Linked DNA regions of Homo sapiens. The protein of the gene in region 4 binds, or shares a complex with, the protein of the main gene of each other region. Each region holds a gene or a part of one and is shown on either strand. Other genes may lie near its edges.

Region 1 (7,119 bases), on a different chromosome or scaffold from region 4:
GTGGTAGTGCTGATGTGTGGGTACCACTGAGGCCAGGCCACAGTCGCATGTACCCTCCTCTGGGCTGACTCACGAGGCTACAGGGGACAGCACACCTAATGAGCAGGTCTGTCCTCCAGACATACTCATTAACAAGCACGTTCCTGGCTAAAAAATAACCAGATCTTTTTGGCCGTGCCCTCAGGTTGGAGAAAGAAAACTTTTAATTTGGAATCACTACAAAGACAAATGGTTTCTACAAATTATTTTATTAGAATGTCAGACTCAAAAGAACTACCAGGAACATGCCTGAAAATGCTATATATGATTTATGCTTGACCCATGACACCTGCTGTCACTGGATCCAGAGTGAGCAAGGGAAAGGAAGTGGAGGTAGGCGGGGACAGCACCAGCCCTGGCTGGCCAGACCTGAGGCCCACAGACCTGGTCCCCACAACCAGGATTCCTACAATGTACACATTCCTAATTCAGGCTCAACTCTCCTTTACCCAAAAGTAAATGCCTCAGGACTCAATCTGAATCACTGTCTGTCTCAGCTTCTTTCACATCCACGCTGAATTTGTACTCCTGGTCACATCCCATGTAAGCGTCACTCATGAAGTACAGAGTGTAGTTGTGGGCACCAGTGGCTGGGGCCACAAAGTCCAACTTCACCTAGAAAGAGCAGGCAGAAATCAAGATGAGCATGGACACAGGAAGCATTCTCACCCTTCCCCCATGCCAGAACAAATGCTAGGGCCAGTGGACACACTCACCTTGGCCTTCTGCTGCAAGGTCAGCCTCTTGATGGAGATGAGGCTATTGGACTTGGCATCTCCAATCACCACCCACCAGCCCTCTTCACGTTTCTGCAGTGATCCAAAACCAAGAATTTCAGCATGTAAAACTTGATGACCATAGGCAACCATGAAAATGGTACAGTTACAAAAGAGAGAACAAAAATCAGATAGCTTTCCAAAGTTTCTTCCCGAAATACAATTAGATTTAACATTTTAATACTATCAAAAGTTGTCTCAAACAGACTTAATTTTTTAAGTAGATGAATTCATTTGTTGGTTCTGGCTCATTTCCTTGTGCCAAGGTACCTTCTCCCACTTAGTACCTGCCACTAAGTCCAAGGTACTACTATTAGAGGTCTAGTCTTTGGGGCCTAGGAGCTTTGAGTTCCTTAGAGATACTTTTAAGTACAAGGCAAATCTGCCAGATGAGAAAAAGCTTAGGCTGGGCGCGGTGGCTCACGCCTGTAATCCCAGCACTTTGGGAGGCCGAGGCGGGTGGATCACGAGGCCAGGAGATCGAGACCATACTGGCTAACATGGTGAAACTCCGTCTCTACCAAAAATACAAAAAAGAAATTAGCCGGGCATGGTGGCGGGTGCCTGTAGTCCCAGCTACTCGGGAGGCTGAGGCAGGAGGATGGCGTGATTCCGGGAGGCGGAGCTTGCAGTGAGCCGAGATCGCGCCACTGCAGTCCAGCCTGGGCGACAGAGCGAGACTCCGTCTCAAAAAAAAAGAAAAAGCTTAACACAGAGCTGAATGTGCACAGAGATATCCACAGCAGGCCTTGCAGCCCTGTCTACGGGCTGCCCCGCTGTCACAAAGACGAAGAGTCCCAGTTAAAAGCAGTCTTTACTCAGAGCCTTGAAACAATTAGTTTACAGAATTAAACATGACAGTATCTGGTTTCTGCTATCAACCTTCAATTATTCTCCCATATAAAGAGAACCAGAATTTCTTTCTGGTGGTAAAAAACCAAGCACCCAGAAGCACAGTAAGTGGCAGTGAGAAAAAAGAAGAAACAACCAGGAAAGCCCAAGTGTCCTGCAGCCATCGGAGTTAAAGACAAATGCATCTTAAAGAGTCAGAGAGATGGACAATACTACACAACTGACGGGTTTAACAATGACCAGTCATCTAAATTTTTTTTTTTTTTTTTTTTTGAGATGAAGTCTCACACTCGCCTGGGCTGGTGTGCAGTGGGGCAATCTCGGCTCGCTGCAGCCTCCGCCTCCTGGGTTCACACCATTCTCCTGACTCAACCTCCTGAGTAGCTGGGACTACAGGTGCCCACCACCACGCACAGCTAATTTTTGTATTTTTAGTAGAGACGGGGTTTCACTATGTTGGCCAGGCTGGTCTCGAACTCCTGACCTCGTGATCCGCCCGCCTTGGCCTCCCAAAGTGCTGGGATTACAGGCGTGAGCCACTGCGCCCGGCCCTAAACTGTTTAAGCAGAAACAAACAGAAAAAAAACCCCATAGCCTCAAGATTAATTCTCACCCTTGTGAGCTGATTATCAGTCTAAAGTTTCCCTCCCTCAGGGACAGTGTGCCCTTGTACCAAGCACCTAGCCAATGGATAGGGTGAGTTGACACCTGACCAAGCCAGCTACCAGGACGCACCTGCGGGAAGAGAGGCGCAATGACAGGGCCTGTGACTTCCTCCTCTCGCTCCAGCTGCACCAGCACCACAACTGGCCCGCCACTGCAGGGGGAGAGGAGGGGCGCACGTCAGTGATGGGGCAGTGGGCTCAGAGCACACTATTATGCTGTGCCCAACAGGCACCACCTCTGGCTCACCTGCGGATGCTGTCCTTATCTACCACCTCATAAGATAGTTCGATATTAGGGTAGCGGTTACAAAAGCGAGCCACATCTGCAATCTGGCTGTCAGTCAGCTGAAGCAACGCGTTCCGTTCTTCATCCTCCATCTCCATGATGTCGAAAACACTCTCCACTCCCTGCAGTGAGTATTCAGACGTCAGGAAAGAGAGAACACGGGCCAACAGCAAATGACACAGGCAGCAAAGAGCTACTAATTTTACCTCCTACACTATCAAGTCATCTAGATAAAACAGCTGCAGAAAGAACACAGCCCACAGTTGGCAGGCTCTCTAGCATCTCAACAGGGAGCACCTTCGGAGGAACCATAACTAAAAGTTTAACTTACTGAGACTCACCTCCCGCAACCCACGCTCGGTCCACAACACTGGGCTCTCAGGCTCACCCACCTGACCCTCTAGGCTGACCCGGCTCACCTTGTCTGTGCAACGTTTGATATGCTCAGAGGTGAAGTGTGGCAGCTGCTTCAGGTATGAGTCCTTGGACCACATGGCTTGGGTGACCATCTGGGCCAGTTCCATAGCTGCCAGAGCAGGGCTGAGCCACCCATTGCTGGAAAGGACATCCACGCAGGCCTGGATGAGCCGGATTGCCTGAACAGGAAAAGGAGTATAAAAGTGGGCGGAGTTGGAGCTGAGATGTTTAGAGCACCACTGACCCCTCTGCCCCACACCCACACTCTACCTTACTAAGGATTTCCTCCGTATCTGACTGCAACTCAGCACTCAGCTGCATGCGAGACAAGTGAGCCTGCAGGAGCAGGTTGGTCTTGACGTGCGGATCATTGAACTTAGGGTTATTCAGCTTGTGGGGGACCTTCTGAGCCAACTACAAAGTGGAAGAAAAATAGCTGGTGATGAACAGGTGACCCTGCCTGAGACCAGCTCAGGCCAAAGCACCACGTGGCCCAGGCTCACACAGCCCTTCAACACCCTGAGGCATGTGGGTGGTAATGGGATGGAGATGGGTTTGAGGGAGGTATGGAGCGGGAGGACATATGGCGGGGGTCGGGGGATGCGTATGGGCGTGTTGGTGGCAGGGATGCCATGTGCTCTGGGCACACAGGCCGAGTTTGTTGTTCCCAGGATGCTCTCCTGAAGTCTGCTGTCCTCACCTGCCTCAGGAGATTGTCTTCATGGTGCCGGATGGGAATGTTCTCATACTCTGCTGCATTGGAGATGATCTCGATAAGCCCTCGCACCTTGGTCTTGGCATTGAGGGACATGCTGAAGAGCTCTGACAGAAAAAGGAAATGTGAGAGAAGCTAAAACCAGGCAGAGAAGGAGCAGAACTGCCCGGGCTCCCCTGCTGTCCCCTGCAGTGTCATCCCGCTGACAAACACGGGCGCACCTCTCATCCCAGTGGGCTCCTGACCCGTGTAAAAAGGCTCCCACAGACAGGACACGGGCCATGCCGGGCCTCACCAATGGTGGTGTAGTTGATGTAATAGTAGGCGGCGATCATGCCTAGGTTCAGAGGCGCCACGTCCATCTCGTCCTCGATGCTGATGCACTTGGACTGCTCCAGGTCACTCAGGGTCTGCTCCACCAGCTCTGACAAGTGGTCCGACAAGTGACGATGGGAGATGCCTATGGAGGCGAGAGGTGAGTGGGGAGCCTCAAGAAGATGCCCAGCAAAGACTGTGAGAACCACCAAAGGATCACGTGTGCTCCCAAGCCCACTGACCCTGCAGGTTGTAGTAATTGGGGTTCTGTGTCATGCGGCGGTACAGAAAGGTCCAGGTGAGGTAGTCCACAGCATCCTGCTTGTTCTCAATGGTCTTGGTGACGATCTCAGCATTGAAGTGGTCATGCATACAGTGGTCCAGGTGAGATTCTACTGGCAATGGCTCATATAAGAACTTCTTGAAGAAATCCTGTGGGTTGGAGAGGGAGAAGGAGTAATAAAGAATTAGTGACAACACGGTCACAGAGGGCCAAGGGCAAATCAACAGGGCATGGTCCCTGTGTGAGACCTAACTAATACCAAAATGGAAGAAGCCACACATTTAGAAAGTGCATCACTGGTGACAATACGCAGTGGGAACAGAGGTACAGCAAGTCACGAGGGCAGAGCAGTGAGCAGCCCAAGGAGGAAGGAGAGAACCAAGTAGAGGGTGAAGACCTCAACACGTGGAGCCAACGGCAGCAGCAAAAGCAAAAGGCAGCAAAATTCCATGTGGGTGGCAGGCTCGTCACAAAAGAATTGTGTAAATAAGAGAGGCAGAAGTTAAGAGACTAAAGTTACTGAAGACATCTATCAAAAGAAAGATTAAAGAATCCATTCTGAGGCTACGGATCCAAGAGGCTCCATGAGTCTAGGACTGACCTTCTTGGAGCCCTGACACATGATGACACAGCGCCCCTCATCGTCCTGCAAAGGGCGGTTGGCGTGGCCCACCATCTGAAGCACGTCATAGATGGGGTAATCCACATAGCTGGTGACAGAAGCAGGGAAAGAAGGAAAAGCCACCTCAACACGGAGACCATGCTCAGGAAGCCCAACTCCCTTCGCCAAGTAAGAGTAAAATGTTAATACGGGGAGACACGGACAAATCACGGGACGACTCTGTTTATGAATCTCTGCACTTACAACTAGCTTCACTGGCTGGCCTGTATAACATTTTAGTATTCAGTGTAAGGGCCATGAATTTGCTGCTCAAGTGCCATGAACCAAGCTACAAAACTATCTAATGCCAAAACCAAAATAACTCCCTATTCGAGGATCAAATATGTAAGTCAAACTTCCCAAACTTTTCTCCTTTAATTAAAAAAAATTATTATTGTTTTTATTTGTTTTTTGATACAGGGTCTTGCTCTGCTGTCCATACTGGAGTGCAGTGGCACAGCCACGGCTCACTGCAGCCTTTACCTCCTAGGCTCAAGTGATCCTCTCACTTTAGCCTCCAGAGCAGGTGGGACTACAGGTGCATACCACCACACTTTCCAAACTTCATAGTTGTGTATTTCGTGAGTCATCAAGTCACCCAACTTTAACCCTACCTAGAAGCAGGTTCAAACATTAAAAATGAACCCGTAAATAAAATTCATTTCAAACTAATCTGCATTTCAGGAAAAAGTTATTAAGCGTTGGGCCAGGCACTATAACTCACACCTGTAATCCCAGCACTTTGGGAGGCTGAGGTGGGTGGATCACTTGAGCTCAGGAATTCAAGACCAGCCTGGGCAACATGGTGAAAACCCATCTATACAAAAAAAAGGAAAAATTAGCTGGGAGTGGTGGCACATGCTGGTAGTCCCAGCTACTTGGGAGACTGAGGCAGGATGATTGCTTGAGCCTGGCAGGCAGAGGCTGTAGTGGGCTGAGATCATACCACCGCATTCCAGCCTAAACGACAGAACAAGATTGTCTTAAAAAAAAAACAACAACAAATTATGCAGGCTTTTTTATGAGAATGACTGACTCTTCTAACTTCTTTTTTTTTGAGATGGAGTCTCGCTCTGTTGCTCAGGCTGGAGTGCAGTGGTGCTATCTCGGCTCACTGCAACCTCCGCCTCCTGGGTTCCAGCGATTCTCCTGCCTCAGCCTCCCAGGTAGCTGGGATTACAGGCGCGTGCCACCACACCAGGCTAATTTTTGTATATTTAGTAGAAACAGGGTTTCACCACATTGGCCAGACTGGTCTCGAACTCCTGACCTTGTGATCCACCCGCCTTGGCCTCCCAAAGTGCTGGGATTACAGGCATGAGCCACCACACCTGGCCCTTTTTTTTTTTTTTTTTTTTTTGAGACGGGGTACCACTCTGTTGCCCAGACTGGAGTGCAATGGCGCGATCTTGGCTCACTGCAACCTCTGCCTCCTGGGTTCAAGTGATTCTCCAACCTCAGCCTCCCAAGTGGCTTGAATTACAGGTGAGTGGCTTGAATAACAGGCACCTGCCATCAAACCTGGCTAATTTTTGTAGAGACGGGGTTTTGTCATGTTGGCCAGGCTGGTCTTGAACTCCTGACATCAGGTGATCTGCCCACCTTGCCCTCCCAAAGTGCTGGGATTACAGGTGTGAGCCACCACACCCAGGCTTTTTTTTTTTTTTTTTTTTTGAGTTGGAGTCTCACTCTGTTGCCCAGGCTAGAGTGCAATGGTGGGATCTCAGCTCACTGTAGCCTCTGCCTCCCAGGTTTAACTGATTCTCCTGCCTCAGCTTCCCAAGTAGCTGGGATTACAGGCGCCTGCCACCACACTCAGCTAATTTTTGTTATTTTTAGTAGAGACGGGGGTTTCACTATGTTAGCCACACTGGTCTTGAACTCCTGACCTCAAGTGATCCGCCCGCCTCAGCCTCCCAAAGTGCTGGGATTACAGGCATGAGCCACTGCGCTCGGCACTCCTCTAGCTTCTTACTTGTCACTATATAGGTGTATGACCTCGACCAAGTCACTTTTCCTAATCTACAAGATGTCTGAGATTAATGACGTAACGTCAAACATTCCTCCTGGCTCTAATTTCCTACCTCTCCCAGCTGCTGAATAAGGAAGC
Region 2 (7,537 bases), on a different chromosome or scaffold from region 4:
TCAGTGAATAGAGCAAAATTCCTCCAGAACTATCTACCTCTCTTGCTCTGATTCCTTGCCCACAAATCAACTTCTTATGAAAAACTCAGCTTTCCAGGCACTGTGACACCCAGAAGTAAAAGAGAAAATGAAACAAGCATTTAGCCCACTAGAAGGAGACTTACCTCCATTCAGAAAAAAACAAAAACCACAGCTGATTTCTGACTAAGTTTCATATGACTAATTAGTGTGAACCTATCATAGATCATCTATAGGTATTCTTAAAAAGTCCAATTTCTGGCTCAAAAAGGCTGAGATTTGGACCATGGAATTTAATGCCTCAATCAAAGTGCTAAAGTCGGTTATCTACAGTCAGTCGTACCCAGCCACTTTCAAGAACTTCCCCATCACCATTCTCTCCAACACCCACATCAAACCTGGCTATTGTTCTCAAGCCTGAAGACTGGGTCTCTGTAGTAAAAACAGCAATTGCAACAATAACAACAAAAACTAAAACTACGGGTCTTTGATAGGAAAGGAATAGTACTTACATTAACAAAATCTCCACCCTGAATCATGAAATCCTTTATGACCCTGAAACAGAGAGCAAAGAATACTGAGAAGATTTTATGGTTTAGAAAAACATAGATGTTGTTATTATTGTATTAGATTAACGTTGATTTCAAAATACACTATCACTTTGGCTATTATAAAATCATTACTCTTAGCTGGGTGCGGTAGCTCACGCCTGTAATCCCAGCAGTTTGGGAGGCCGAGGCAGGCAGATCACATGAGGCCAGGAGTTTGAGACCAGCCTGGCCAACATGGCAAAACCCCGTCTCTACTAAAAATACAAAAATTAGCCGAGCGTGGTGGCACATGCCTGTAGTCCTGGCTACTCGGGAGGCTGAGGCAGAAGAATTGCTTGAACCCAGGAGGCGGAGGTTGCAGTGAGCCAAGATCATGCCACTGCACTTTAGCCTGGGCGACAGAGTGGGACTCTGTCTCAAAAAAACAAAACAAAACAAAAAAAACCTGAAGATTATTCTTTTCCTGAATGATTAAGCTGAAAGGATAATTAACCATAAAAAAGGATTTTCGTTATAAATTAGGGCATGTTAGAGTTGATCAAGTGCATGATCTGGTACCTGAACAGTAATAAGAAGAAGGGGCTGAAAGCTTACTTGCCAAAGCAAAAGGCAGAGCAAGGGTTTGATGTAAATTTGGGGGAAAGAACTACAGAGAATTTATGTGAAATGTACTGCTAAACATGTAAGGGCTTAACAACTGTTAGCTATTACCCCTAGGGAGGGTCCTTAACCTTTCTTATCCTCAGTTTCCTCCTCTGTAGAATGCAGATCACCCATACCACTTCACAGGAGTCTTACTGGGGATTAGAGACCCAAAGCTCTAAAGCTGTGATATAATTATGTGCTAACATTGTTACTAACCACAGTGAGGCCATGAGAAAGATTCTATATTGAAATGAGACTAAGTGTTGACATACTCCACTCCCCAGGAAATATGATTATCCTTGGACAATCATATATGATCATTTTAGGAATTAGTTATAAATATCAACCAGCAGGATATATTATATGCACTTTAGGATTACAAGTGTACTTTTTAAAAAATCTGCATTCGCACAAACAAGTGCATGAAAAAGACAAGATATTGTAAAGATGAGTAGTTTCTGTTTTAAAGACCTAAGAAGTGGGGGAGTGTAAGTAGAGTTAGAACATTTAATAAATCTTCAGTTGTTGAGTCCACAAAAACATTTCTTCTCAAGAAATGTAAGAATTACCCTCTGGTTTTATTTTCCTCTAAAGAGCCTAATCCCCCAGGAAATATTTCTGAAAGACTCCAGGATGGCTTGCCAAGAGCCTTACCTGTGGAAGGTGCTTCCTTTGTATCCTATTGGAACCCCATCTTTCCTATAACCGAAAAGAAAGAGACTTGGAGTGACAGCAGGTAGCACAAGGCCTTTCCAGTTTACCATGCACTGGAGCCAAAAGGACTCTCCTAAAGATGGTTGACAGACATAAAGAAGGCAAATAAACTAGGGACAGACCCTTGGGGCATTACCTTCTATCACTGTCACCAGCAATCATTCAAGGCCAGCAGGTGGTTCACCGATACCCTCACTGCAGCCCCAGAACACCCCTCTGGAGCAGGCAAAGAAGTCAAACACATCTGAAACTGACCTGAATTCTCCGGTGCAGAACTGCCTGAAAGGGACAAAAAATGAATGATTCAATCACTATGATGTCACAGTCGTGAGCGCCTCTAAATACGGGAAAGAATAAACACTGGAGCCAGCAAGTCCACCAATCGGCCAGCCAGACGTCCAGACACGCAGTCACACAGACTAACAACGTAAATTAACACGGGAACAATCCAAACGGCAACCAGACAGAGCAATGCATGGAGGAATCAGGTCTCAAGAGCAGTGAGCGGACGGACAGAGGTAGACAGGCTATTTCAGGCGGCTGACTGGAGCCCGACTTCTGCCTCAGCTAATCCAGCGGAGCTGGAGCACGTCCTTACCTAAAGTTCTCGGCCGTCTTAGGCACAACGTCTGCAAAGAGCTCGATCTTCATGCGGCCAACTTCCTGCAATCAGCGGGAGAGTGTCAGAAGGCCCAGTCCAAGACCATGAGGGCTTCACGGAGCAGGGGGCATGATGGGCTGACCCACCACCCTGCCGCTCGGTATCTCCCACCTCCGCCTCCCTAGTCTAACCGCCCAGTTCCTCCAGAAGCGGGGCGCTAGGATTGGGGAGACTCCTCCTCCTCCTTTCCCCCCGCCCGGCAGGTCGGTAGGTTCGGGTGCAATTTCACTTTCTGGCTGGCTTCCCGAGTCCGCTCTCTCTGGGTGAGTTCTGCCTGCCTAGCCCCGAGCAGTTTCCCTTCGGCGCAGGTGTGGGCAGCCTCCTGGATCTCACCTGACCGCCAATACTGACATCAAAGAACACCACGGGGTTAACAGGACTTGAATTTGCCACCGCCATGGCTCCGACCCGGAAGCAGAAGTCGGGAGCGTGGGATTCCGGCGAACCTAAAGCCCGGTCCGCGGATTTCGTCCGGGGAGCAGGCGCGGTAGACGTGGAGCGAGACCAGGCTCCGCCCCCGGAAGCTGTCGCCCCGTGCGGTGTGTGCTGAGACTGCTAGGGTCTAGCTGAGAGACTCTGCCTGGCACTGGGGACGCGGGAGTGAGGAGGAGGAAAGCCTTGACATCTTTTTGGTTAAGGTCAATGGTCACCCCACTCACGTGGCTGTACTAAGGGCAGTACAAGTTGATCTTGCTCTAGCTAGGACTTTTGGACTAGGCAGTCGCCAGGGTCCTCCTTATCGGCTCTTGCAGCCAAGCCCTCTGCACCGCCACACGTGCTGTCTGTCTTCTGCCCGCTAGTGTGAACACCGTGAAGGCAGGAACTCTGGTTTGTTCATCCTCAGCGTTTAGAACAGCTTGGCACGTACAGGCTTGCTAAGTAAATATCCCTTCCTCTAAGTCAGGACAATAGATAATGTTTGTTCTGCCACAAAAGCTACCAGTTTTGTCATTTCCAATTCATTTCCCATAAAGCAACTAGAGTTTTTTATTTTTTATTTTTAAAATAACTCTTGTGCTTCCTATTTATTTTAAAAATAACTCCTGGCTTCCCATATTTAGAATAAAATCCAATTCCGTGCATACGAAGCCCTACAGTGCATTTATCTGGCTATCACGTACCTGACCTCATCTTGTACCACTTGCCCTTAGTTACTGTGCTCTGACCTGTCTGTTCCTCCAGGTCACTGAGATCCCTCCTCTCTTTAGGGCTTTGTAATAGCTGTTACTTCTGTCTGAAATATTCCTTCCAGAACTTAATGTGGGTTGGCGGGGGATTGTGGGGGTTGGTTGGGGTATGCGTGTGGGAAGTAATGCTCCTTGTAGTTCAGGGCTCACCCCAGATGTTACCTCCTGAGAGGCAACATTAGACCTAATCTAAAGTAGCCCTTGGTCATTCAGATCACTGGTTTGTTTTCTTCATGCCACCCCCACTTCCACATTATCTTCGTATGGTATGTGTCTACACCTCATTTCCTGCCACACACACATAATCTTCCTCCCTGATAGCATATAAACTCCATGAAAGTAGAGACTCTCCTGGTCCTATTCGCAGCTGTAGCTGCAATGTCGCCTACTGAATAGCATATAGTAGGTATTCAATAAATAATAGATGCAATGAATTTAGTGAAAGAAGGGGACCTTGGGCAAGGCTCATTCAATATAACAGCATGCATTTAATAAAATAGTTATTATTTCCTAGTTCCTATGATCATCTTTCTAGCTCTGTTGTCTGAGAAAGCAAGGATTACATATAAAAATACAGTGTGTCTCAATGTAAAGGGTCATTTTTATTTCTGGTTACTGATCCTCTCCTCTTGGTCTCCTCCAACTGAAAAAGAAGAAAGGGGAGGAGGGGGAAAAGGAACAGCAGCAGTCACGCTTCAGTATAATTTTATACCAACTGTTTTAGAATAAATCTTTAAAATTGATAATATCCAATGTTGATGAGGTTGTGAAAAAAATAGTACATTGATAAACCTCTAGTGAAAATAAATGATGATAGCATTTATTAAGCAGTTACTACGTGCTAAATACTTTACATGCTTCATTTCATTTGGTCCTCACAACCCTATGGGATAGAGAACTATTATTGTTCCCATTTTAGGAATCAAGAAATTGAGGCTCAAGGAGGTTGAGTAACTTGACTATGAAAACAGTATGTTGACACACTTTTTATTTATTTTATTATTTATGTATTTATTATTATTATTTTTTGAGACAGAGTCTCACTTTTTGCCCAGGCTGGAGTACAGTGGAGTGGTCTCAGCTCACTGAAACTTCTACCTCTTGGGTTCAGGTGATTCTCGAGCCTCAGCCTCCCGCATAGCAGGGACTACAGGTGTGCACCACCATACCCGGCTAATTTTTGTATTTTTAGTAGAGACAGGGCTTTGCCATGTTGGCCTGGCTGGTCTTGAACTCCTGGCCTCAAGTGATCCACCTGCCTCGGCCTCCCAAAATGCTGGGATTATAGGCGTGAGCCACCGCACCTGGTCAGGCAGAACCCTTTTTTAAAGCAAAGGAAGTGATGTCCTAGAGCAATATTAACATTTATATCCTTTGACTCAGTCCAATCTTGCGAATTTGTTTTCTGGAGTAATTCAAAAGAAGAAAAGAACTACATGCACAAAGACCTTCAACACAGCATAATCTTAAATAGTAACAAAGTAAAACCAGGCCTGGCATAGAGGCTCATCCTATAATCCTATCACCTAGGAGGCTTAGGTGGGAGGATCACTTGAGCCCAGAAATTTGAGACCAGCTTGAACAATAGAGTGAGAGTGAGACCTCGTCTTTACAAAAAGTACAAAAATGAGCCAGGCATGGTAGCACATGCCTGTACTTGGGAGAGGCTGAGGAGAGAGGATCACTTAAGCATGGGAGGTTGAGGCTGCATGAGCAGTAATCAAACCACTGCACTCCAGCCTGGGTTACAAAGTGAGACCCTGTCTCAAAAAAAAAAAAAAAAAAAAAAAAGTAAAAACAGCTTAAATGCCAAACAAGAGAACGTTTAATTTATAGAACATCCACATCCTCAGAGATACTGAGCAGTACTGTTCCACCCTGATAGATGAAATGGATGTGAATGTTGCTGATCTTTTCTGAAGAAGCAGTCCCACTACACTAAAGATGAGCTGGAGACTGTTCACCTACTTTGTACTCCTGTTTGGAAATATTTAGGGGTAGTTTCTGTGTAATGGGGTTTATGTGAACTCTCTTCTCATACCCCCTCCCCCAGGAAAAGCTCTTGGTATTTTCCTATCCACTTTTATTTTATTTTATTTTATTTATTTTTTCGAGATGGAGTCTTGCTCTGTCACCCAGGCTGGAGTGCACTGGTGCAGTCTCGGCTCACTGCAACCTCTGCCTCTCGGGTTCAAGTGATTCTCCTGCCTCAGCCTCCCCAGTAGCTGGGACTACAGGCGCGCGCACTACCACACCTGGCTAATTGTTTTTGTATTTTTGTTAGAGACGGGGTTTCCCTAAGTTGGCCAAGCTGGTCTCGAACTCCTGACCTCAGGTGATCTGCCCACCTCGGCCTCCCAAAGTGCTGGGATCACAGGTGTAAGCCACCACGCCCAACCTCCTATCCACTTTTAAATAATGTATTGCTCTAAATCTTCTTCATTAAACATTTAAAACTTTTCCCATAAAAATAATTATAGAACATCAACATGATTGAATATCATATGGCGATTGAAAATGTTTCCATGGTATATACAGTAAATTAAAAATCAAACTGTGAAAATGAATATACAATATTATAATAACCACTTAGAATATATGTACTTGAATTAGGACCAAAAGGGAATAACTGTAAAATAAAATTAGTTGTGTTAAGACTGTGGTATTGGTGTAATCCCAGCACTTTGGGAGGCTGAGGTGGGTGGATCACCTGAGGTCAGGAGTTCAAGACCAGCATGGCCAACATGGTGAAACCTTGTCTCTACTAAAAATACAAAAATTAGCTGGGCATGGTGGCGGGCACCTATAATCCCAGCTACTTGGGAGGCTGAGGCAGGAGAATTGGTTGAACCTGGGAGGCAGAGGTTGCAGTGAGCGGAGATCATGCCACTGCACTTCAGCCTGGGTGACAGAGTAAGAGACTCCGTCTCAAAAAAAAAAAAAAAAGCTTATGGTATTATAGGAGGGTTTTTGTTTTTGTTTTTTGCTTTTTTTGAGACGGAGTCTCACTCTGTCACCCAGGCTGGAGTGCAGTGGTGCTATCGCAGGTTCACGCCATTCTCCTGCCTCAGCCTTCTGAGTAGCTGGGACTACAGGCACCCGCCACCACACTCGGTTAATTTTTTTGTATTTTTAGTAGAGACAGGGTTTCACCGTGTTAGCCAGGATGGTCTCGATCTCCTGACCTCGTGATCCACCCACCTCAGCCTCCCAAAGTGCTGGGATTATAGGCGTGAGCCACCACGCCCAGCATAGGAGGGTTTTTTTAAAAACAAAATTTGCTTTAATGTGACTGTATTGTTTTTACTGTTAAAAAATAAATCAGAAAAGATACCCATGATAATGGGAAAGAATGTTGAATTAACCCTACATGTGCTCTGCTGAAGAGAAACCTAAATAAATCATTGAACTAAAGTCAATATTTTGGTCAATACAAGGCATCTGAGGATATCAAACAAACTTGAGAAATCCATTTTTACAACTGCTTTAATGAATTTATCAGCAGTTTTGAAGACTCTTGGGTGATATCCATTTGGGATCTGTGGTAACTCTTCTCAATGTCATGGTCCACCTTTTGTCCAGGCTTTAAATTACCACTTTTGTTCAGTATAGCTTTAGGCACCAGTGATTTTATAGTTCTGACTTTTGGTCTTGTTCTTGTATACCATGTGTCTCCTTCAGAGAAGCCACATTTATGTATCCAGCCTCAGAATTCTGTGAACACACAAGATTCTCAGGAGACTTTTCAGGGGACTTTGAAC
Region 3 (7,119 bases), on a different chromosome or scaffold from region 4:
TCATTAAATATAAAATATTGACACTGTATATTAATTATGTTACTACTCATGGTTGTGGCTCCCTTACAATTCTCATGCAAAAATAAATCCAATTTTAATCGGTTGTGAGAAAACAGTCCACCATGTGCTTGTATCCAGGAATAAAGAATTACATAGATTATCTGGCATATTGTCATCACATCCTCTGTAACTATTCATAAAAACAATAATTCACATTTTGGGAATGCTTTTTCCAACATCAATCAGGAAAATACAGCTTTATAAGGTGTTTCAGATTGCAAGAATACATCACATTAGAAACCCATTATCATGAGGGACAGGACTGGTTTTTATTTGTTTATGTGTAATGTGTTGATATGCCAAGTATTTTGAGAAAAGATCTGACTCTGGACTTCATTTGTACTGTTAGAATGCATTTTTCTTAGCAACTGAACAATGTGTATTCTTATTTAATTTTTGGAATTACTTTACCAATTCAAAATGCCATATACTACAATATTTCATTCACAGTCCCTAAATTTGCCTGTTTGCCTTACCCACTTTCCATCATTTTATTAATAAATTGATTATAAAACATTATACTACAAGTCAAGTACTTATGAATAGCCAATACTAGCTAACTTCTCTAATTCTCCCAGAGACAGCCCTTAACATCAACCAAATAATTCTAGAGAATAGTGCTTCTCCCCTTATAAGGCTGATTTGAGTGAAGATATTTTCCTCCCCCAAAAAGCTATTATGTTTAATAAGTATGAAGTTTAAAATATTTTAAAATATGAATGAAACCCACCTCTAAACTCTCTATAAGGATCTATTCCAGAATTTATACAAATTGTTCATTTTTTCTTATTGAACTTGTATTAAGCCAAGGGTCAGCAACTATGCCTTCAAGCCCAATCCAACCCCCACCTCCATTTTTATAAATGAAGTTTTACTGGAAGACAGCCACTATTCATTTATGTATTATCTATGGTTATTTGTAGGCCACAATAGCAGAGGTGAGTAGCTGTGACAGACCACATGGCCTTCAAAGCCTAAAAGACTATCTGGATCTTCATAGAAAAAGCTTGCCAACTACTATTTTTAAGCACTTTCATAAAAACAAAACAAATAAACTATTTAAATTTGTTTCAATTACAAGGATGTAAATATTTTTCTATGTTCTTCTCATCACAAAGACACACACTTGGGCCTATACATGAGTTGATCAGAAATTTTATGGACTAGCCTGAATATCTAAACACTACTTACATTGTTTCTTTCAATTATTTAAAAAACTGAGTTGACGTCTTCTGAAATCAGGTTTATGGATAATGAATCATGGAAAATTGCTGACAATAATAGCTAGCACTACTTCAATACAAACTTAGAGTTTATTTACTCACATTTATAAACTAACTTTAACATTAGAAATTCTCCAATTCTTAAAAATTAAAAATTGAAGACTACATGGAATCAATTTTTTTCAAATATACTGTCTGTAAAATTCAACATTAATGTGTTCATATTACTTTCATACCTAACCAATTGGGCATCAAGAGACTTTACTAATCATCTCTGTCAATTCTACCATTCCTAGTCATTCTTAATATTCAAGTTAGAATTTTGGGCCAATCTATCAAAACCTTGTTAGCATTTTTGCTTTTCTCAAGCAAACACATTTTTACCTACCCACACCTCTCAGTGCTAGGGAGCAACTTTTAGAAGCACTAGCAAACTACCACCAGTGGAATCGGATAAATGCCAATGATTCAGATAACTCCAGCAAAGATTTACCCTCCTGTGATTTTCCTAAACATCAGGGAAAGAAAACACATATATCCTGTATTACTGTTACTTGAATGCCTGATTTATATAGCACACTAATTTCTCTTTTCCACTAGTTTCCATAAATACTAAAGTATCAAAAAGTACTACTTTTTTCTAAAAGTTTTCAAAATGCCCATTATATTTTCACACTATTTAATAAAAAAAAGAAACCAAGCTACCAAACTTATATTTAGGCAAAAAAAAAGGTTTTTTTTTCAATAAAATGTAGAAATATTTTAATTTACATATTACAATGAATCAATAAGGAGTCAAAATCCAGTGACACACTCATAAAAACTCCATATATCATCCTCAGAATAATCAGTTTCTGTACAAAGATTTACAGATGTCCAAGTATGTAGTTTTTCCTCAGTGTGCTACAGAATTTAAAGGTTCTGCTCGAATATTCCCCAAATCAAGCGCAGAATCTGTTTCTTCATCGATTTCTCCAATGACTGCACTAAAAAAGTCAGAGTTAAAACAATCACATTTCTGAAATAAATTACATGTGTTTCAAAAATCTTACTAATCAAATCAAAGCACTGAGTACCATTCTTCCAAAAAATAAAACTGAGAGAGCACAGTAAAAAGAATTAAGGTAAAAAGCAAACAACATTGGCGTGAGTCAGTGAACTGCATATTTAAGTCACAAAACTCAAGAAATAATTTGAAGGCACATTATTACAGGAACCAATATTAAAGGACACATTGTACACAGTGATTGTATCATGAATCTTTAAAGGAAACAGACACACAAGGATAGACACAGTAAAAAACCCTCAAACTTCCAAACCATATTTCAATTCAATTCTAGGACTGTATTAAAAATAAATTTCACAAAATCACTCCTAAAATAATTAGCAAGTAAAAATATCAATCATTTGAGTAACTTTGATGAATTAAATCAATGATATAGACAACAGCGATTAGATTGTTTTCCTAAGTTTTCAGTTAAATCCAAAGCCAGTTCTTCATATACAAAAATAATAGTAGGAACAAGTACTTTGGTATCTAACAAATCATTTTTGACGTGATTGGCTCAGGTTAAAAGCTAGAAAATTTTTTCTTGTTCAACACTAACATAGTATCTATAACTTTAAATTCATTAATACCACGCTAGATAACCAACCCATAGCCCTCTAACTGGAAATATTCAATGTTATCACTCAGACCACAAGATGTCTATGAAATATTATTTTTAAAAAGTATTGGTTGGGTTTACATTTGTTTGGTTTTAATGAGAGTAAATTCTTTTTTTTTTTTTTTGAGATAGAGTTTCGCTCTTGTTGCACAGGCTGGAGTGCAGTGGCACGATCTTGACTCACTCCAACCTCTACTTACCAGGTTCAAGCGATTCTCATGCTTCAGCCTCCCGAGTAGCTGGGATTACAGGCGCATGCCACCACACCCGGCTAATTTTTGTATTTTTAGTAGAGACAGGGTTTCACCACGTTGGCTAGGCAGGTCTCGAACCTCTGACCTCTGGTAATTCGCCAGCCTCAGCCTCCCAAAGTGCTGGGACTACAGGTGTGAGCCACTGTGCCCGGCCAAATTCTAAAGACGAATACTAGTAATAAGGGATTTGCCAAATTTTGCTTTAAAGTATATAAAGTCTTAAATCATCTAATAAATGAAAAATATGAAACTCTGGCAGAATGAATTAAGTTTTCTCAAACTAAAGGCCTCAATTCCACTCTTAAATATTCTTAAATTTTAAATGATAATATTCAGTATCATTTAAAATCCCTATGGTAAGCAGGGAAATGCTGATACATTTTTAAAAACCAGCTCTCTGGAAAAAAAGCGGGAGACTGATTTGCTGCATTTACTAATATCCATTGTGCAAACACTCCCACCACGGCCAATTTCAAGCTACTAACAAGACATCAATTAACCAGCTTGTAAAATTCCTTAAAATATAACAATATGCTTTCATGGGCCAGTAGAAGCTGGCTCTAGCACAAGACTTTTTTCACTGAAGTTCAAGAAAAAAAAATTGTTTTAAGTAGGAGAAACCTTAAAATCAATTACTATGCACAGCTCCAATATAAACAGTGTTGTTCTGATCCAGAGACCTGGGCCCTATCTGCTCTGTCTCTCTCTCATTACTTACAGCTCACCTTGTAACTCCACCTAAAAGTCATCTCTAAAATATTTTATAAACTCTTGATTTTTGATTACAGATCAAATTATTTATTCATCTAAAGGTGATGCTAACATAAACAACTTAAATGAGTAAATTATTCCTGCACTTTTTAAGTTATTCCAGGGGACAGTTAGTCCCCTAGAATTTGTTAAATGTTCTAGCTTAAAATTGCTAATGTATCTTTTGCTTCTTTCCAACTATATTTTGATTCAGTGTAGTACTCACTAGAAAACTGATTTGGCATTCTTCTAGCCTCTATAACTATACTAATACTGGCCACATGTAACTATTAAAATTAATTACAATTAAATAAAATTTAAAATTCAGTTCCTCTGTCACATCAGCCACTTTTCTTTTTTTTTTCAAGATGGAGTTTCACTCTTTTTGCCCAGGCTGGAGTGCAAAGGCGCAACCTTGGCTCACTGCAACCTCCATCTACCAGGTTCAAGAAATTCTTCTGCCTCAGCCTCCCAAGTAGCTGGGATTACAGGCATGCACCACCACACCAGGCTAATTTTTCTATTTTAAGGAGAGACGGGGTTTCACTATGCTGGCCAGGCTGGTCTTGAACTCCTGGGCTCAGGTGATCCACCCACCTTGGCCTCTCAAAGTGCTGAGATTATAGGCATGAGCCACGGCACGTGAACCACATTAGCCACTTTTCTTTTTTATTTTTTGACACGGAGTTTTGCTCTTGTTGCCCAGGCTGGAATGCAGTGCTGCGATCTCGGCTCACTGCAACTTCCACCTCCCAGGCGAATTCTCCTGACTCAGCCTCCCGAGTAGCTGGGATTACAGGCTTGCGCCACCACGCCTGGCTAATTTTTATATTTTTAGTAAAGACGCGGTTTCACCACATTGGCCAAGTTGGTCTCGAACTCCTGACCTCAAGTGATCCACCCGCCTCCACCTCCCAAAGTGCTGGGATTACATGCTTGAACCACTGTGCCCGGCCTTTTTTTTTTTGAATTGGTGTCTCAATCTGTCACCCAGGCTGGAGTGCAGTAGGGTGATCTCGGCTCACTGCAACCTCTACCTCCTGGGTTCAAGTGATTCTCCCACCTCAGCCTCCCAAGTAGCTGGAACTACAGGCGCACGCCACCAAGCCTGGCTAATTTTTGTATTTTTAGTAGAGACAGTGTTTTGCCATGTTGGCGAGGCCGGTCTTGAACTCCTGACCTGATCCACTTGCCTCAGACTCCCAAAGTGCTGGGATTACAGGCACCATGCCTGGCCAATTACTCTTGAACTTTTATATCTGTCTGTCCCAAGTAAACTGAGGCCACAGGGACATCTTAAGTGTGTCAATGATACTAAAAAATTAAAAGAAAATGAATAACGAGTAAGTACTTATTTATAAATACACCTATGTTATTGAGCATGAATTAATATTGTTCAAATCAGAGATTTCAAAACATTTTTCAAACTTTGGCCTTGGACTCTAGAAATATGTTCCTCTAAAATTCTGGGTATTTGAAAGAACGTTTTAAGAAGTCTCTCTAATGAAGTATTTAATATAAGGCAGAGCCCTTTCTGGACTCTACCCAGGCTACTTAACTAGTAGAAAAATGGGCAAATCTCAGGTAAAAGTTTAATTTGTAGAGAGACAGCTTTGGTTGAAACCTAAAGAAGTGCTGACATAAAATGTATACATATGCCTTATTTTACACAAACATAAGAAAAGGTATATTTACGAAAGAAATGAATGCAAGATTCTATTAACTATGTATGGACAATACAGTAGGGTATTTTGGGGAAAGCCTCTTCTCCATAAAGTAAGGCAGTATCATTTATAATTTTAACAGATATATTTTACTTACACGTTGTCACCTCTTACAATGTATAATCCTAGTACCACTTGTTCTACCCCCTGTGAAGAGCTGAATACTCGTTCATGGCTTTCATCCAAAATCAAATTAATGGTCTGGTCAAAACCTTTCAGTGTTCCCTGTAAAGAAAATATTCAGGAGAAAAAGAGAAATATTCTGGTTTACCTGAAAGTGTAAATTTAACCTCACAGTCATTTTAGTTGCCAGGTATTCCAATACAAGTACCTATACGACGGCAAATAAAATGCCTTTTTTATAACCAACAGTATTCGAGGGTACACAATTTACCTCTTGGTTATTTGGCTGGGGTGGGGGGACCTGCACCACACATCTCACTCATATGTAGAGTTGACAGCAGTTGCAAAGGACACCTATGTACTAATGTGACTATCTCCAAGTAAGTAGCATAAAAGCTTATGTAGACCAGCAGCTAAAGGTATAAACTAAGACAAAGGATATTTAAGGGAAAATGATAGCCAAATATACATAAATAAGGAAGAACCATACATACCAACTACAGCAATGTAATAGTATCACTATATGCTATATGCCAGCACTAGGCAGTGTGCTAAACACACTGTACACATTTTCTCAACTCATCTCTACCCTTTGATTTAGTACTATAATTAGCCCCATTTCAAAGAAGAAACTGAGGCACAGAATGGTGTGTCTTATGATCACATGGGTAGTAAGTGGCAGAGCCAGGAGATGAACCACAAAAGGCTAGCTCCTGAGCCAGACCACTAAACCATAACATTCTATACTATTATACACAAGTAAATATAATTTGCCATTTTTCAGATTCAAATCAGTCCCATAAATATACTAAAAATTTAACTAGTAGTTACATGTAACACCTAATGAGTACATACTAGTTACCAGTGTTCTGTGTGTCTCACATGTATTGTTTAATGTGTATCATATGGATTTATTGTTTAATTCTCCCAGTAAGGTAGATACAAATGTGACTATACTAATTAAAACCAGAACTTGAAGGAAATAATCAGGGAGAGTTTTATGAAAGCTTAGTATTGAATAAAAGAAGACATGGGTCTAGCATAACAGAGTAACTCACATGGTATTCAAGTTTCTGAAGAAATATCAACTAACATTGGTTTTGATGGTTAAACCTCTCAAGTTCTTAAACTGTTTTATCTTCTGAAAGTCAAAATATATAAAATGAGAATGAAATAAAAAAGAGAATGAAATAAAATGAGAATGAAATCTGTAACTTGGAAGAGAAACAAAATATGGAGTATTTATTGAACTAGTTAGCAAATGGTTGTTATCATAAACATCCATTCATAACTTCTTGACTTCATTTTACACATTATC
Region 4 (7,119 bases):
CTTCATAGATTCCTCAAAGCCACTGGCCTTCTCCCTGGGGAGCAAGAGAAGCAGGTGAGGTGATATCCTGCCATTTCCCAGCACACTGCTAACCTCCTGGAGGTGGCTGTCTGGGAAACACCACAGGAAATCACAGAGGCATACAAGAGATGAGCTCAAAGGGTTGTGACAGGTCCCTCTAAGAGAGGAGAATCCTCACCAGAAAAGCCCCTCCCAGGTAGGGAAGTAAGTGCCCTTAAAGAGTGTGTGTTCCAGAATGCCTTCCACACCGCCCAGGGCCTGGATCATGTCTGTACGGTAGTTGTTCAGGTTCCAGAGCTTCCCATCATGCCGCTGGTGTGTCCACCAGAACGGATTCTGCTTCAAAACCTAGATGGCAAGGCAGGCACGGTCAAGCTTCTGGGTGCCTATTGCCCCAAGTTTCGGGGATAGCCATGGATTTTCCTGACTCAGGGAAAATCTGCTCCCTCTACATACCTGATACTGCTTAAAGTCAGTTCTGACACGCCAGCCCTTATCATAAGCCAGTGTGTGCCGGTCCTTCTGGAAGAGGGTATTGATTCGAGGAATGCCACGATCCCATGAATCTTCTAGGTCTTCTAAAGTCAGGCGTCTTCCAAAAAAAGAAAGATTCAAGTCAAAACGTGATCTCATATGAGGAGCTCAGCACTCCTTCCTGGCCAAAAATAATTAGGGTCAGTAGAACCAGCCTTCTCACCTCCATACAACCATGGCATGCTCTGACCCTGAACTCCACACGGTTCAAAGGCCACCACTGCCCCTGCCCCAGGGTTGGCATGCCCTCCTAGGTGCCCACCTGTTCTGAGCAATGGCCTCTTGCCTCTTGAGTGCGTACTCAGCCCAGACCCGCTGAGAATCAATGAACTCGCTCTCCCATGGCTGTATGTAGCGGTACAAGTTGGGAATGAGCTGGTCTTCTTCATGGCTCATTCCTGAACGAAAGTGTGTGATACCTACATCTGTCTGTTTGGACCACCTGTTTGGGTGTACAACCAAGATTACAGAAAAAATAAAGCCTAAAACTAAAGAAATACCCACTTCCCTTAGGGCCTGAGCAATAGGGTTTAGAAATACGTTGAACCAGGCTGTACCTGAGGTCGGATTGGGGGATGAGCACATGGCCCATTGAGAGCATGCCGAGTCCACCCAACTCCTTAGGGGTGTAGAACACAACCGGGGGGAACCGACTTGGCATCTTGGAGTTGAGTCCAATCTTGATACGTGTCTGGATTTTGTTCTCACACTTCACCAGTAAGTCCAAGAGCTCTTGGGTGTTCACCACAGCCTCCCGAAAGTATGTCATAAGGCCAATGAGAGCTGTATTCCACTTATTCACAATCTAAAGGTAGTAGAAAAAAAAGTAAATTACAGATGAGCCAGGGGCGGGGAGGGTGGAGACTACTTGATGCAGTTAGTTTTATCCCTACTACTAAAGAAAGATTTGAGTTCAACATCATTAGTCACTAGGGAAATAGAAAGCAAAACACAATGAGGCTGGGCGCGATGGCTCATGCCTATAATCCCAGCACTTTGGGAGGCCAAGGTGGGAGGACTGCTTGAGCCCGGGAGTTGGAGACCAGCCTGGCCAACATGGCAAAACCCTGTTTCTACTAAAAATACAAGAATTAGCCGGGTGTGGTGGCAGACGCCTGTAATCCCAGCTACTCAGAAGGCTGAGGCAAGAGAATCGCTTGAACCTGGGAGGTGGAGGTTGCAGTGAGCTGAGATTGTGCCACTGCATTCCAGCCTGGGCAACACAGCGAGACTCCATCTCAGGGGAAAAAAAAAAAAAAATGGTTCCCCTGGGCCAGGTGTGGTGGCTCACGCCTGTCATGCCAGCACTTTGGGAGGCCGAGGTGGGTGGATCACCTGAGGTCAGGAGTTCAAGACCAGCCTGGCCAACATGAAACCGTCTCTACTAAAAATACAGAAATTGAACCCAGGAGGCAGAGGTTGCAGTGAGCTGAGATCGCACCACTGCACTCCAGCCTGGGAGACAGAGCAAGACTGTGTCTCAAAAAAAAAAAAAAGAAAAGAAAAAGAAAAAAAAAAGCACACCAGATGGAGCTATACAAACTAGTGAAGAACACCAGAAATGGTAAGTATGTGGGTAAAATGCAAAAAAATATTTTTTCTCATTTTGCAATTTCTACAAAAGATAAAGGCTGTTCAAAGCAAAAAGAGTAACAAAGTATTATAGCACTTATAATACATGTACAATTAAAATGTTATGACAAAAATACTACTAAGAGTGGGAGTGGAACTTAAAGTGTATTATTCTAAGGTTCTTGTACTATATGTGAAGTGATCCGTAGTAGACTAATGGTCAAAGTAGATCACAGTAAGTGAGCTATGTATATACTGTAAACCTTAGAGCAAACAATAAGAAAAAAACCATGTAGCCAAATAAGTGAAAAGTGGAGATAAAGTCACAAAACAACTAAATTCAGAAGAAGGCAGGACAAGAGAAAAGCAGAAAAAATAATTTAAAAAAAAAAGAGTAAGACGGTAGATTTAAACTGAGCTACATTGCCACATTGATAGTTACATTAACCTTAATTGAGGTATTTAGACCATTTGTAAGGCAAACATTGTCAAATTGGATTTAAATAAAAAGGCCGGGCATGGTGGCTCACACCTGTAATCCCAGCACTCTGGGAGGCTGAGGCGGGCCTCGGGGTCAGGAGTTCGAAACCAGCCTGGACAGCATGGTGAGACCCCCCGTCTCTACTAAAAATACAAAAATTAGCTGAGCGTGGTGGCACGCGCCTGTAGTCTCAGTTTCTTGGGAGGCTGAGGTAGAAGAATCGCTTGAACTCGGGAGGCAGAGGTTGCACTGAGCCAAGATCATGCCACTGCACTCCAGCCTGGGCAACCAAGGAAGAGACTCCATCTCAAAAAAAAAAAAAAAAAAAAAAAAAAAAAGAGCCAACTATATGCTGTCTATAGGAAATAAACTTTAGTTACAAAGACACAGATTAACAGTAAAAAGATGGAAAAATACACCCATGCAAACACAAAACAAAGCTGGAGTGGCACTACTGATTAAGACAAAGACTTCAGACCATGGAATGTTATCAGGAATACAGAGGGATATTTGATACGATAAAGTAGTCAACTCGTTCAGAAGACCTAATAATCCTAAATACATTATGTAACTAATAACAGAATTTCAAAAATGATGGACCTGAAAGACAATAAACTCACAGCTGTAGTTGGATCTTTCTCTCAAGCAAGACAGGGTCTTGCTCTGTTGCCCAGGCTAGAGTGCAATGGCACCATCTCCACTCATTGCAGCCTCCACCTCCCAGGCTCAGGAGACTCTCCCGCCTCAGCCTCCCAAGCACCTGGGACTACAGGCGTGTACCACCACACCCAGCTAATTTTTGTATTTTTTTTGTAGAAATGGGGTTTCGCTATGTTGCCCAGGCTGGTCTCGAACTCCTGTGCTCAAGCAATCCACCAGCCTCAGCCTCCCAAACTGCTGGGATTACTAGAGATTTCTAATACTCCTCAGTAATCGATAGAAGTATACAAAAAATATCACTAAGGATATAGAAGACTTAAGCAATGTAACCAACTGACTGGACCTAATGTTTGTAAAACACTCAACCTAACAATAGCAGAATACAGATTAACAGATATTTTCCAGCACACATAGGACAGGCACCAAGAGAGACTGTACGCTAGGACATCAAAAAGTCAGCCTCAGCCAGGTGCAGTAGCTCATGCCCGTAATCCCAACTCTTTGGAAGGCTGAGGCAGGAGGATCGCTTGCGCCCAGGAGTTTGGGTCCAACCTAGGCAAGAGTGAGATCCCACCTCTAAATGAATTAATTATTAAAAAAAAAATCTTGATACATTTTTTAAAACTAAGATCATATACAACATGTTTCCTAATCATAATGGAATCAAAGCAGAAACTAATAAGGGAAACCCCCAAATATGTAAACAGCATAATTTGAAACAACCTAAGGTGAAATATGAACTCATAAGGGAAATTAGAATATACTTTTAACTAAATAAAAATGAAAACACAACATATTAAAATGTGAGGAATGGGGCCGGGCACGATGGCTCATATCTGTAAGCCCAGCACTTTGGGAAGCCAAGGCGGGTGAATCACGAGGTCACGAGTTCAAGACCAGCCTGGCCAACATGGTAAAAACCTGTCTCTACTAAAAATACAAAAAAAAATTAGCTGGGTGTGGTGGCGGGCACCTGTAATCCCAGCTACTTGGGAGGCTGAGGCAGGAGAATCGCTTGAACAGGGTAGGCGGAGGTTGCAGTGAGCCGAGATCGTGCCACTGCACTCTAGCCCGGGCGAAAATGTGAGACTCTGCCTCAAAAAAAAAAAAAAAAAAAAAGGGAGGAATGCAGCTAAAGCAATGCTGAGAGGAAAATTTACAGAAGTGAATAATACTATTAGAAAAAGAGAAAGGTTGGCCAGGCACGGTGGCTCACCCCTGTAATCCCAGCACTTTGGGAGGCTGAGGTGGGTGGATCACGAGGTCAGGAGATCAAGACCATCCCAGCTAACACGGTGAAACCCGTCTCTACTACAAATACAAAAAATTAGCTGAGCATGGTGGCAGGCGACTATAGTCCCAGCTACTCAGGAGGCTGAGGCAGGAGAATGACACAAACCCAGGAGGCGGAAGTTGCAGTGAGCCAAGATTGCGCCACTGCACTCCAGCCTGGGCGACAGAGCAAGACTCCGTCTCAAACAAAAAAAAACGAGAAAGGTCAGCTGGGCACGGTGGCTCACGCCTGTAATCCCAGCACTTTGGGAGGACGAGGCAGGTGGATCACGAGGTCAAGAGTTCAAGACCAGCCTGGCCAAGATGGTGAAACCCTGTCTCTACTAAAAACACACAAAAAAATTAGCCGGGTGCGGTGGCAGGCATCTGTAATCCTAGCTACTCGGGAGACTGAGGCAGGAGAATCGCTTGAACTCAGAGGGCGGAGGTTGCAGTGAGCTGAGATCGCGCCACTGCACTCCAGCCTGGGTGAGAGAGTGAGACTCCATCTCAAAAAAAAAAAAAAAGAAAAAGAGAAAGGTCCAGGCCAGGTGCGGTGGCTCACACCTATAATCCCAACACTTTGGGAGGCCGAGGCAAGCTGATCAGGTGGTGGTCAGGAGATCGAGACCATCCTCGCAAACACGGTGAAACCGCGTCGTAGTAAAAATACAAAAAAAAATATTAGCCGGGTGTGGTGGTGGGCACCTGTAGTCCCAGCTACTTGGGAGCTGAAGCAGGAGAATGGCGTGAACCCGGGAGACGGAGCTTGCAGTGAGCAGAGATCGCGCCACTGCACTCCAACCTGAGTGACAGGGCGAGACTCTGTCTCAAAAAAAAAAAAAGAGAAAGGTCCAAAATTGATAATCTAACCTTTTACCTTAACAAACTAGCAAAGGGATGGCAATGATAAGAGAAGAAATCAATGCAACAAGGCCAGGCGTGGTGGCTCACACCTACAATCCCAGCACTTTGGGAGCCCAGGGGGGTGGATTACCTGAGCTCAGGAATTCAAGACCAGCCTGGGCAACATGGCGAAACTGTCTGTATCCAAAATACAAAGAAAAATCAGCCAGGCATGGTGGCATGTGCCTGTGGTCCCAGCTACTTGGGAGGCTAAGGTGGGAGGGTCTCCTGAGCCTGGGAGGCAGAGGTTACAGTGAGCTGAGACTGCGACACTGCACACCAACCTGGGTCATAGAGACCCCATCTCAAAAAAAAAAAAAATCAATGCAACAAAAAAGAGAAAAACGATAAAAATTAATGAAACCAAAGCTGTTTCTTTGAAAAGCTGAATAAAACAAGATAGCAAACCACAAAATACCAAATGATATAGTCAAGACTTTAAGGCAAAAAATGTCTTCTGAACAATTATTGAGGTGAAAGAGTGCGTTGGCTGGAGTTACTATAGTAATCTGCCTTGAGCAAATGGTATTCAGACAAGCAAGGAGAAAAGACTGCAGGTGAGATAACAGCTCAAACCCTACTATGAAAGCTAGACTGAGCATCTCGCATGTCCACAGGATGAGACAACCAGGCAGATCTACAGAAAGGAGGGGGGCCGGGTGCGGTGGCTCATGCCTGTAATCCCAGCACTTTGGGAGGCCGAGGCGGTTGGATCATGAGGTCAGGAGTTTGAGACCAGCCTGACCAACATGGTGAAACCCTGTCTCTACTAAAAATACAAAAATTAGCCGGGCATGGTGGCAGGCACCTGTAATCCCAGCTACTCAGGAGGCTGAGGCAGGAGAATTACTTAAACCCGGGAGGCGGGGGTCGCAGTGAGCTGAAATTGTGCCACTGCACTCCAGCCTGGGCAATAGAGCAAGACTCCCTCTCAAAAAAAAAAAGGAGGGCCAGGGGCCAGGATAGGCTAGATACTGGGGTAAAGGCAAGTGGATGATTCCCATTAGGTTTAGTAAATTCTTGGACTGCACTTGGAATTGCTGATGTGTGTAATGGAACACAGTATTTCTGTTGTAGTTAACAGTGCTCTATCCCTGAAGGGGAGGAGGCATAAATTCCTGAGGAGCCCAGTGTTCCTTTACTAAATAGCAGAAATTCCTGGGGGATAAGGGGAGGCAAGAAGGAAAATAATATTTACTCAGGTCTACGTGTACTAGGTACCATGGTAAGAAATTTATATATGTTATACCTCTTATGTCTTCATAAAAAACAAGTTATAGAACTTGCCCATGACATAGCTTTTTTTTTTTTTTTTTTTTTTTGAGATGGAGTCTCACTTTGTCACCCAGGCTGGAGTGCAGTGGCGCAATCTCAGCTCACCGCAACCTCCACCTCCGGGGCTCAAGTGGTTCTCCTGCTTCAGTCTCCAGAGTAGCTGGGACTACAGACATGTGCCACCACGCCTGGCTAATTTTTGTATTTTTAGTAGAGATGGGGTTTCACCATATTGGCCAGGCTGGTCCTGAACTCCTGACCTCGTGATCCACCTACCTCGGCCTCCCAAAGTGCTGGGATTACAGGCGTGAGCCACCGCACCCGGCCTATTTATTTATTTTTAAATATAAACAGGATCTTGCTATGTTGCCTAAGCTGGTCTCAAATTCCTGGGCTCA

Evidence for each region.
Region 1: the proteins of PRPF8 (region 4) and SNRNP200 are in contact, whole or in part, in a cryo-EM structure (PDB 7OS2), measured with the Homo sapiens proteins. Residues at the interface, in NP_006436.3 of Homo sapiens: Trp2073, Arg2074, Ala2077, Ile2078, Ala2081, His2084, Asn2109, Lys2113, Tyr2168, Glu2171, Met2172, Arg2266, Leu2268, Gly2269, Phe2270, Gln2276, Arg2287, Leu2298, Ala2299, Asn2300, Glu2303, Glu2307, Arg2310, Pro2311, His2313, Phe2314, Leu2315, Asn2316, Phe2317, Ala2318; in NP_054733.2 of Homo sapiens: Pro543, Met544, Arg545, Ser546, Thr570, Gly571, Thr589, Glu591, Lys592, Ile595, Arg624, Arg728, Lys729, Glu773, His786, Ala787, Thr814, Glu837, Tyr992, Thr1008, Ser1010, Ile1012, Leu1041, Glu1042, Arg1043, Val1044, Pro1045, Ile1046, Pro1047, Val1048.
Region 2: PRPF8 (region 4) and PPIH share a complex: the UniProt entries of both Homo sapiens proteins name them as parts of the U4/U6-U5 tri-snRNP complex.
Region 3: PRPF8 (region 4) and LSM8 share a complex: the UniProt entries of both Homo sapiens proteins name them as parts of the U4/U6-U5 tri-snRNP complex.

Annotation. Positions count from the first base shown.
Region 1 is NC_000002.12:96,274,502-96,281,620, forward strand, and holds part of SNRNP200 (U5 small nuclear ribonucleoprotein 200 kDa helicase), read right to left. Parts: intron 5,059-7,119; coding exon 4,950-5,058; intron 4,498-4,949; coding exon 4,308-4,497; intron 4,211-4,307; coding exon 4,046-4,210; intron 3,858-4,045; coding exon 3,736-3,857; intron 3,450-3,735; coding exon 3,306-3,449; intron 3,215-3,305; coding exon 3,038-3,214; intron 2,741-3,037; coding exon 2,580-2,740; intron 2,485-2,579; coding exon 2,403-2,484; intron 849-2,402; coding exon 756-848; intron 655-755; coding exon 511-654; 3' UTR 1-510. UniProt on the Homo sapiens protein: Catalyzes the ATP-dependent unwinding of U4/U6 RNA duplices, an essential step in the assembly of a catalytically active spliceosome. Plays a role in pre-mRNA splicing as a core component of precatalytic, catalytic and postcatalytic spliceosomal complexes.
Region 2 is NC_000001.11:42,653,898-42,661,434, reverse strand, and holds the start of PPIH (peptidyl-prolyl cis-trans isomerase H), read right to left. Parts: upstream 3,013-7,537; 5' UTR 2,989-3,012; coding exon 2,923-2,988; exon of another isoform or gene 2,592-2,922; coding exon 2,527-2,591; exon of another isoform or gene 2,208-2,526; coding exon 2,184-2,207; exon of another isoform or gene 2,091-2,183; coding exon of another isoform or gene 2,065-2,090; exon of another isoform or gene 1,914-2,064; coding exon 1,869-1,913; exon of another isoform or gene 1,809-1,868; intron 574-1,808; coding exon 531-573; intron 1-530. Other genes in the region: CCDC30 (coiled-coil domain-containing protein 30), read right to left, coding at 7,407-7,537. UniProt on the Homo sapiens protein: PPIase that catalyzes the cis-trans isomerization of proline imidic peptide bonds in oligopeptides and may therefore assist protein folding. Participates in pre-mRNA splicing.
Region 3 is NC_000007.14:118,187,062-118,194,180, reverse strand, and holds part of LSM8 (LSM8 homolog, U6 small nuclear RNA associated), read right to left. Parts: intron 5,904-7,119; coding exon 5,776-5,903; intron 2,270-5,775; coding exon 2,179-2,269; 3' UTR 1-2,178. UniProt on the Homo sapiens protein: Plays a role in pre-mRNA splicing as component of the U4/U6-U5 tri-snRNP complex that is involved in spliceosome assembly, and as component of the precatalytic spliceosome (spliceosome B complex).
Region 4 is NC_000017.11:1,660,794-1,667,912, forward strand, and holds part of PRPF8 (pre-mRNA-processing-splicing factor 8), read right to left. Parts: intron 1,361-7,119; coding exon 1,113-1,360; intron 998-1,112; coding exon 818-997; intron 614-817; coding exon 478-613; intron 370-477; coding exon 200-369; intron 35-199; coding exon 1-34. UniProt on the Homo sapiens protein: Plays a role in pre-mRNA splicing as core component of precatalytic, catalytic and postcatalytic spliceosomal complexes, both of the predominant U2-type spliceosome and the minor U12-type spliceosome.